Linked DNA regions of Homo sapiens. The protein of the gene in region 2 purifies or fractionates together with the protein of the main gene of each other region. This does not show direct contact. Each region holds a gene or a part of one and is shown on either strand. Other genes may lie near its edges.

What was found.
Region 1: the proteins of ENPP1 (region 2) and SMYD3 purify together in Homo sapiens (affinity purification with mass spectrometry; one large-scale study listed by BioGRID and IntAct). This does not show direct contact.

What each region holds. Positions count from the first base shown.
Region 1 is NC_000001.11:245,751,821-245,755,361, forward strand, and holds part of SMYD3 (histone-lysine N-methyltransferase SMYD3), read right to left. Parts: intron 1-3,541. UniProt on the Homo sapiens protein: Histone methyltransferase. Specifically methylates 'Lys-4' of histone H3, inducing di- and tri-methylation, but not monomethylation. Also methylates 'Lys-5' of histone H4.
Region 2 is NC_000006.12:131,814,496-131,818,320, forward strand, and holds part of ENPP1 (ectonucleotide pyrophosphatase/phosphodiesterase family member 1), read left to right. Parts: intron 1-3,825. UniProt on the Homo sapiens protein: Nucleotide pyrophosphatase that generates diphosphate (PPi) and functions in bone mineralization and soft tissue calcification by regulating pyrophosphate levels.

The DNA.
Region 1 (3,541 bases), on a different chromosome or scaffold from region 2:
TGCTCTGTGGGTGCACAGCATCTGCCAGCAAATCCCTAGGCAGGGGGCTGTCCGGAGTGCAGGGGAGGAGTTGGGACCAGCCCCCACCTTGCAAGCAGCCCAGCTCTATGAGATTCCCCTGGGCAGAAGATTAAAAACAAATGTTTGATGGCATTCATGGAGCACATGCCTCGTGTTTTATTCTCTTTTCTCCACACTGCCCTGGATCCTCCGCTGCTCTGGACATCTTGAGGTCTGAGGCAGAGACCTGTGTGACAGCACGATTGCGGAAAGAGAAGGTTTCTCAGATCAGAGAGCCTTCATGGGAAATTTTCTTACTTGAAAGCACTCTTAGATGTTCTCTTCCCTTTTACTCAACAAAGAGCCAGAGTGCTTGTGATCTGGCAAAGGAAGATGAATGGGGCAGAATCACTGCCTGGAAAGATCTTTGCAGAGAGGGACGTAACCCTCCGTCCTGAAAAAGGCCAGACCTAACCTGCTCGGCCTCGCCTCCCTCCCTGCCCTCACAGAGGCCCTCGGCTGGGTGAGGGCCTGGCCTTGTTGCTCAGAATTTCCAGACCAGCCTCTTTTTTGCCCTCCTGGTTACATTCCCCAGGTTCCCCATCTGAAGAATGATCTGTGCTTCTCTCTGACTTGACTCAGAGGCTAAATGACAAAGCCATCTTCTTGTCACTTCAACAACATAAGTTCACTGGCATGCTTTGAACATACTACAGGCTCCAGGCTTCCTTCCTCGCTCTTTTCTTCCAGTTCCAGTGGTGAGTTTCACTTTCTCCTCTTTTGCAGCTTTAAGAGTAAGGTCTACTCCCCACTGATCCAGTATATTCCTGTTCATGGAAGGGGCAGACCTGCCCATCCCACAGTACGGTAACTACTTCCAGTTCTTCAGCCATTCTGGAATTAGAGCCACAGCCAGGAAGGGGGAGTTTCCTGGCCTTCCTCCAGCTTCACATCCACACCTCACAGCCTGCTTCCTTGAGGAAAGACCAGAAGGATCATCTAGTCCAATACCCTCATGTTATGGAAGGAAGTGCTTCCTGAGGTCACCTGGCTTGAGAGTTAGACTAAGGATGACCTCTCGGCTCTCAGGACTCAACCCAGTGTGTCCATTCCATGACTGCATTGTGCAGCCTCCCCGTATGAACAGACTGCAGTGACCAAGGAGAGGAGCAGAGGCTCTCCTGGACATGGCTGCAGAGATACCCTGAGGGGACACAGGTGCCTTCCTTGTCAAGATGCTGCTGGTCATGTTCTGTGTTCTCTTACTTGATGCTGAATGCATCACCAGTAGCAAAGGGGAACAGGGGCAACCCTCAGGAATGTGTGTGTAGAGTCTGAGATACTAAGTTTAGAGGATCTCGTCCATAGGGTGGCTAGAAACAGAGAGGAAATGGGTATGGGTAGGGGCAGAGAACTAATCTGAAGCAACTGAAAAAAAAAAAAAAGAAACTACATCATCTGTCTAGAAAGTAAAACGCCATATAGATTTGATTAATTCACAAGCAAACATACTTTTCTCTGAAAGATGGGCAGATGTAGATGAGAAAGGGAGAGAAAAACGAGAAGAAAGAAGTAGGATTCAGTAATGTGCAAAATATGTTAGTGACTGTGTGTGCGGATGTGTGCGTGGATGAATGGTGTGACACAGGTCAGCAGGAAGCTGCAATTCACACCTGGTGATGAGGACATCTGGTCCTTGTCTTGAACATCACCTGGGCCTATGGGTGAGCTGGGGCAGACAGTCCTCAACAATGTACGGAGAGGGCCCTGTGTGGCCCTGGGCACAGCCCTTCAGCACTGGGTGAGCTGGGGCAGACAGTCCTCAACGATGTACGGAGAGGGCCCTGTGTGGCCCTGGGCACAGCCCTTCAGTACAGCAGGAAGATGAGGAGGGCTTCCCCTCACATTACCATCCCCCAAAAAAGTTACAATAAATTTCTGACAAACGAGAGCAATTGTTTCAAGTAGCTCTGTGTCTCCCTTCTCCTACCACTCCCATCTGTCACCCATGCGCATGTCAGAGAGGACAATTCTGGTTTAATTTCCTGCAGTAGCATATAAAACAGATTAAGGAAATATAAAATTGGAGCAGGCTGGTGTTGGGAAAAGCTTATCTCTTTCCATTAAATTTTATTTTTTTTAATGGTAGCATTTAAAAAGAGCCTGCACATAATCTTTCACAGAGCACTCATTTGAAGCCTCCAAGGAGGGTGCCTGCTACACCCACATCCAGACTCGAAATGTCACATGAGAAAAGCAGCATAGCTTGTCTGCCACATTACAGGCATACAGTTAACTCAGTAATAGAGAAAGGGTCCCCAGAATTGATTTCAATCTCATCTGTTTTTTTAAGTAATTTTAGAATTGTGGTCATATATTAAATAAAATGAATTTAAATCAAATCATAAAGTTGGAAACAATATACCTCTCCTATTAATTTTAATATGAATATATTAAGCTTATCAAGGATCTCAAACAGTTTCTACCATGAGCTTGAGGAATCTAGTAAGTGACTTCCCAAGTATGATTTAAATATGGATATAAAATCAGAGGGAAAAGAAATGTATGCATGATAAGAACCCCTGGAATCAAATCACGACGGGAAAAAATAAAGCAGGTTTTCTTATTCTGCCCAACTCAGAATGAAAGAAAAGCAGAGGGTGGGGCACAGGGAGGAGGAAGCTGGTCTGGGGCATTCAAAGGAGGAAATGCAAGAAGCAAGAGGTACAACACATTAAGCAGCTCTGGAGGCACAAAAAGCCCTTTGCAAGGACAGCAGAGAATCCCAAAGACTTTGATGATCCACCTCAGCTCAGCAGCACCCCTGGAGACCCCACTCCACTCTACATCTTGGATAACTTCAAGTGTGTATTCCGCTGGAGGAATATGTCCTTTTGGGAGGCAGAATTTCCTTAGAGATAACATCTACCCATTCATTCACTCAATACTGTCTGAGCAGCTTTAATGAATAAAACTTGGCCCTTGCCCTGGGAGAAGCTCTGGCATAGTCAGAGGGACAGAATGTAAATACCAGATCATTGCAGTGGAACAGTGTGTGTTCAACAGAGATGCAAAGTGCTGGGGCGCCCAGAGGAAGGAGGAACCAGGTGGCCCCACGGCACCCTCAGGAGGGGTTACAGATGTGGTGAGCTCAGGTCTGTGCTTTCCAGTGGTAGTAGCCATTCCAGAAAAAGCATGGCTGTTGTATCACTGTTTAATCAATCAATCAGTACATATTAATTGAACTCTGAGAGACTCTGAAGAAGTTATGTTTCCTCAGCTAAATAATGAGACTGGACAATATAAATTCTAAGGGCAACCCAAGTCCCAATGTGTTGTACAATGTGCCATGCCAGACACAGCTACAAGGCGTGGATTTGGTTTTGTTTCCAAATATTGTTACTGATTTCTAATTTAATTCCATTGTGGTCAGATAATTTACTTTGTATTAACTTGAATCTTTTTATGTTTATTGATATCTGTTTTGTGGCATAAAATGGTCTCTTTTGGTATTATAGTTACTTAAAAATGTGCATTCTGT
Region 2 (3,825 bases):
GCCCTGAGTATATGCTGTGAAAGACTTCTTTATAAGAGGCAGAAGCTGGCATTATTTGAGATTTGGGTGTAAAAATTATAATTCAATTAGCTTCCTTTTCCTTCCCTTATGATCCATTATCTTAACTCTAGAATATGGAAGGAAGAATGTTCAAGCTAAGTCTCTGCTCTTAATCAGACTTGGAGTTGACATTGCTCCTTTGGTTTATAAAATTTGTTATCTGTCCAGCCATAGTTGAACATTTTAATTTCAGAATAACCAGAGCATCTTAAGAGGCCAGAGAAGTGTTCTCTGTGTCCCTTATGGTATTTGTTTCACATGTTCTAATAAAATACATAAAGGATTCCTAGGAACCCAAGACTGTTGTTTTTACTATTAGGCAGAGGATAGTACCTGACACTCAATGTCAGCTTTTAATTGCTTGAATGAATGTACTGCATTTTTTGTTAGACTGAGCCACACTTTGATTTGGAAAAGGGGAAGATGGGAAGACTAAATACACAAGCAGGGACCCATAGGGTCTGTGATGGTCAGGAATCCACATAGAGATGACACTTGGGTATAAATTCAGGGGTAAGATTAAAACTGGGATATAATTTTATTTGGGTATAGGGAGATGGAGGAGATAGTGAAGGAACAGAAGTACCCAACTAAGGTGAAGGTGCCTAAGAAGAAGGCAGACGGGGCCTCTGTGATAACGTGGATTCAGAATCAGAAATCTAGTCAGTGAACATTCTCTCAGGTACAGACACTCCAAGTGTGGCAGTCGGCATGTATGAAGGAGAGCCTCCTTCACTTACACCAAGGCCTCTTTGGTTTTGATAACTTTGCTGCCACACCCTGAATTCAGTCTTTGTGATTCTTCGCTCTTCTTCAGCATTGCTTTCTGTCCCTTCTTTTCTTCTGCCTTGAATCTTGTTCTGGTATTTCTTTTTCACCATTTGTAGCTCAGCTGTTTCCACTCCATGTTGTCTCTTTCTCAGGGATACGTAGCTACTGTTTCAAAAGCACTTTGCTAATTTCTATTTCACTTGTTTAGTTAACTTTGGACACTCAGTTTTGTCATCTCCTGCCCCCATCATATCCTAATCATGACTCTGAAGAAAATCCTTGGTGGTCACATTGAGAGACCTTATGTGTTCTGTATAATAAAGAACTGGGGGCCATTAACCTTTCTAGAGCATTTACAGAAATTTTTATCTATCAGCCTTTTTTTTTTTTTTGAAACGGAGTTTCACTTTGTAGTGCAGGCTGAAGTGCAGTGGAGTGAACTTGGCTCACTGCAACCTCTGTCTGCCTCCCGGGTTCAAGTGATTATCCTGCCTTAGCCTCCTGAGTAGCTGGGATTACAGGCGCACACCACCACACCTGGCTAATTTTTTTTTTTTTTTTTTTTTGTATTTTTAGTAGAGACAGGGTTTTGCCATGTTGGCCAGGCTGGTCTCGAACTCCTGACCTCAAGTGATCTGCCCGCCTCGGCCTCCCAAAGTGCTGGGATTACAGGCGTGAGCCACCACGCCCGGCTGTATCAGCTTTTCATCTTCATCCAGCTGACTCTTTTTATCTTAAGTAGCAATGTTAAAGGTAAATGAAAATAGTTTCATATTCAATTTTGCTCTCAAGTTTGATGACTACCATTGTAAAATATTTGTGTGACATTTAAGATACAGCAAATGTATTTCATCTATATTGTGGCCTTTTTGTACAAGCCAGAGAACTTTATCATGATTTATAACTTCTTTTTTTTTCTTACTATGGGGAGAGGCATTTAAGTTCCAGACAACTTAGGAACAAATAAGCATTTGGAATACAACTTGTAATTAGAGATCTGCTTTTGGTTAAAATAAGCATGCCTCCATCAACCATAAAATACCCCCCAAACAAGAAAAAATAAACAAGAAACCTTTTAGCAAATGAGCTCAGGGCCGAACATAGATTACTCTTCTAAGCATAAATCTTGTGCAACAAAACCTGATACTCAGAATTCTGACCCAGCTCGAAAATCCCTTGTCATCGGATAAAAACTAAGTTATGCATTTACCAAGGAAAGACAATGTAGGAACACATTTAAGGTTTTTCAAAAGAGTGACCAGAATGTTCAGTTAAATATTAACGGGAAGACTATTTTCTGAGTATTCTAGTTATCTGAGATTTAGTTGCAAGAATTAAGATATCTGTAGTGTCTTTGAAAAATTATTTTTACCTTTTTTTACTTTTAGTTTTTAGAAGAGGTGTTGGTAGAAGTGTAGGTGGTAGAAGTTTAGATGGTTATAATCATTTTTGTAGCACTTGGCAGCTTTAAAAAGCATTTCCCATATATTTTTGATTGATCCTCAATACTCAACAACTGTGAAATAGGAAAGTATGATGACAGTCAATTCTGCTTTACAGATAAGGAATCTGAGGCTCAGTCAGGGATTCAGTCAGGTTTCCATGCAGACATTATTGTGCATAAAAACCACCTGGGAAGTGTTAAAGACAGAGATTCCTAGGCTCCAATCTCAGTGATTATGATTTAATAGATTTGGAATGGACCCAAAGAATCCTCACTTTTTAACAAGCACCTCAAGTTATTCAGATGTAGGTGGTTGATTTACTCTACTTCTAGCAACAATGGGCTAAATTTATAGGCAAAAGCCACACCATTAGTACATAATAGACTATGATGGTAACTGGAAGGACTTTTATCTACAGATTTTTATCACGGACTAATAGCTAATGCCATCCCATTCATTTGCTAAATGTTATATCCTATTCATCAAGCTTGGCCTGCTGTTGGGTTTCCAACTCTCCTTTGCCTGCTTCAGTATAACAATGTGTAATTAGAACCTAAGAAATTTCTGGTGTGGTGATGCTAAAGCTTGCCTCTATATTGAGATATATATGTGTCTTTGGTAGTTCAGTGATGAGATTTTCCTGGGTGGAAGCCAAAATTAGTGCACTTTATTAGTGTGAAGTCAACAATCAGCTGTTTCTGGGAGCTTCCAAAGTAGGTATACTTTTGGGAAATTGTGCTTTTCTTCTTAGTTTGAGTTTCCTTCTTGGCTTATTTTGAAATGTAGTAGAATAGAAAAATAGAGAGTTTTGATAGAAAGTGATTTTGGGATGTGTGGTGGCTCATGCCTCTAAAGGAGACCGAGGCAGGAGAATCACTTGAGGCCATAATTTAAGATCAGCCTGGGCAATATAATGAAACCCCATGTCTATCTCTCTCTCTCTCTCAATCTCTCTCTGTCTCTCTTTCTTTCTCTCTCTCCATACACACACACACACACACACACACACACACACGTGTGTATGTACATATCTCCATATTTTATATATATGTATAATATGCATAAGAAAATCATTTTGGAGGAAGTAAATTGTCACAGCGAATTGTCACAAGTGTTTCTCATTTATGGATTGACCATTTTCTCACCGTATTTCAGGACTTTGCACAGACTTAGCTGGCAAACATCCTATAACAGGTGTGATTTGAGAGTCTTAAAAAAAAATCACTATCTTGGTTTTCAGGTGAATATTTTTGAGAAACTAGCTTGTTCCTAAAGATGTGTTTCCCGATCCCCCTCCTGCTTAGAAAGCTTTTTTTGACGTTAGCAAGCATCTGGGGGATCTTGATGCTCTCTTATGGTTAGAGAGAGAGAATTGAAAAGAAACTCAGTAGATTAAGACATTATTTGCCCTTTCACTGTGTTGACTTTTACACCGTGGTATTAAAGGAGTGATGGCACCTTAGCAGACGTCATTGCAATGACACCAATTGTACAAGTAGTCATGCACTTGCAATAAAAAAAAAGCCATTTCACTAAAAAGAACACCTTA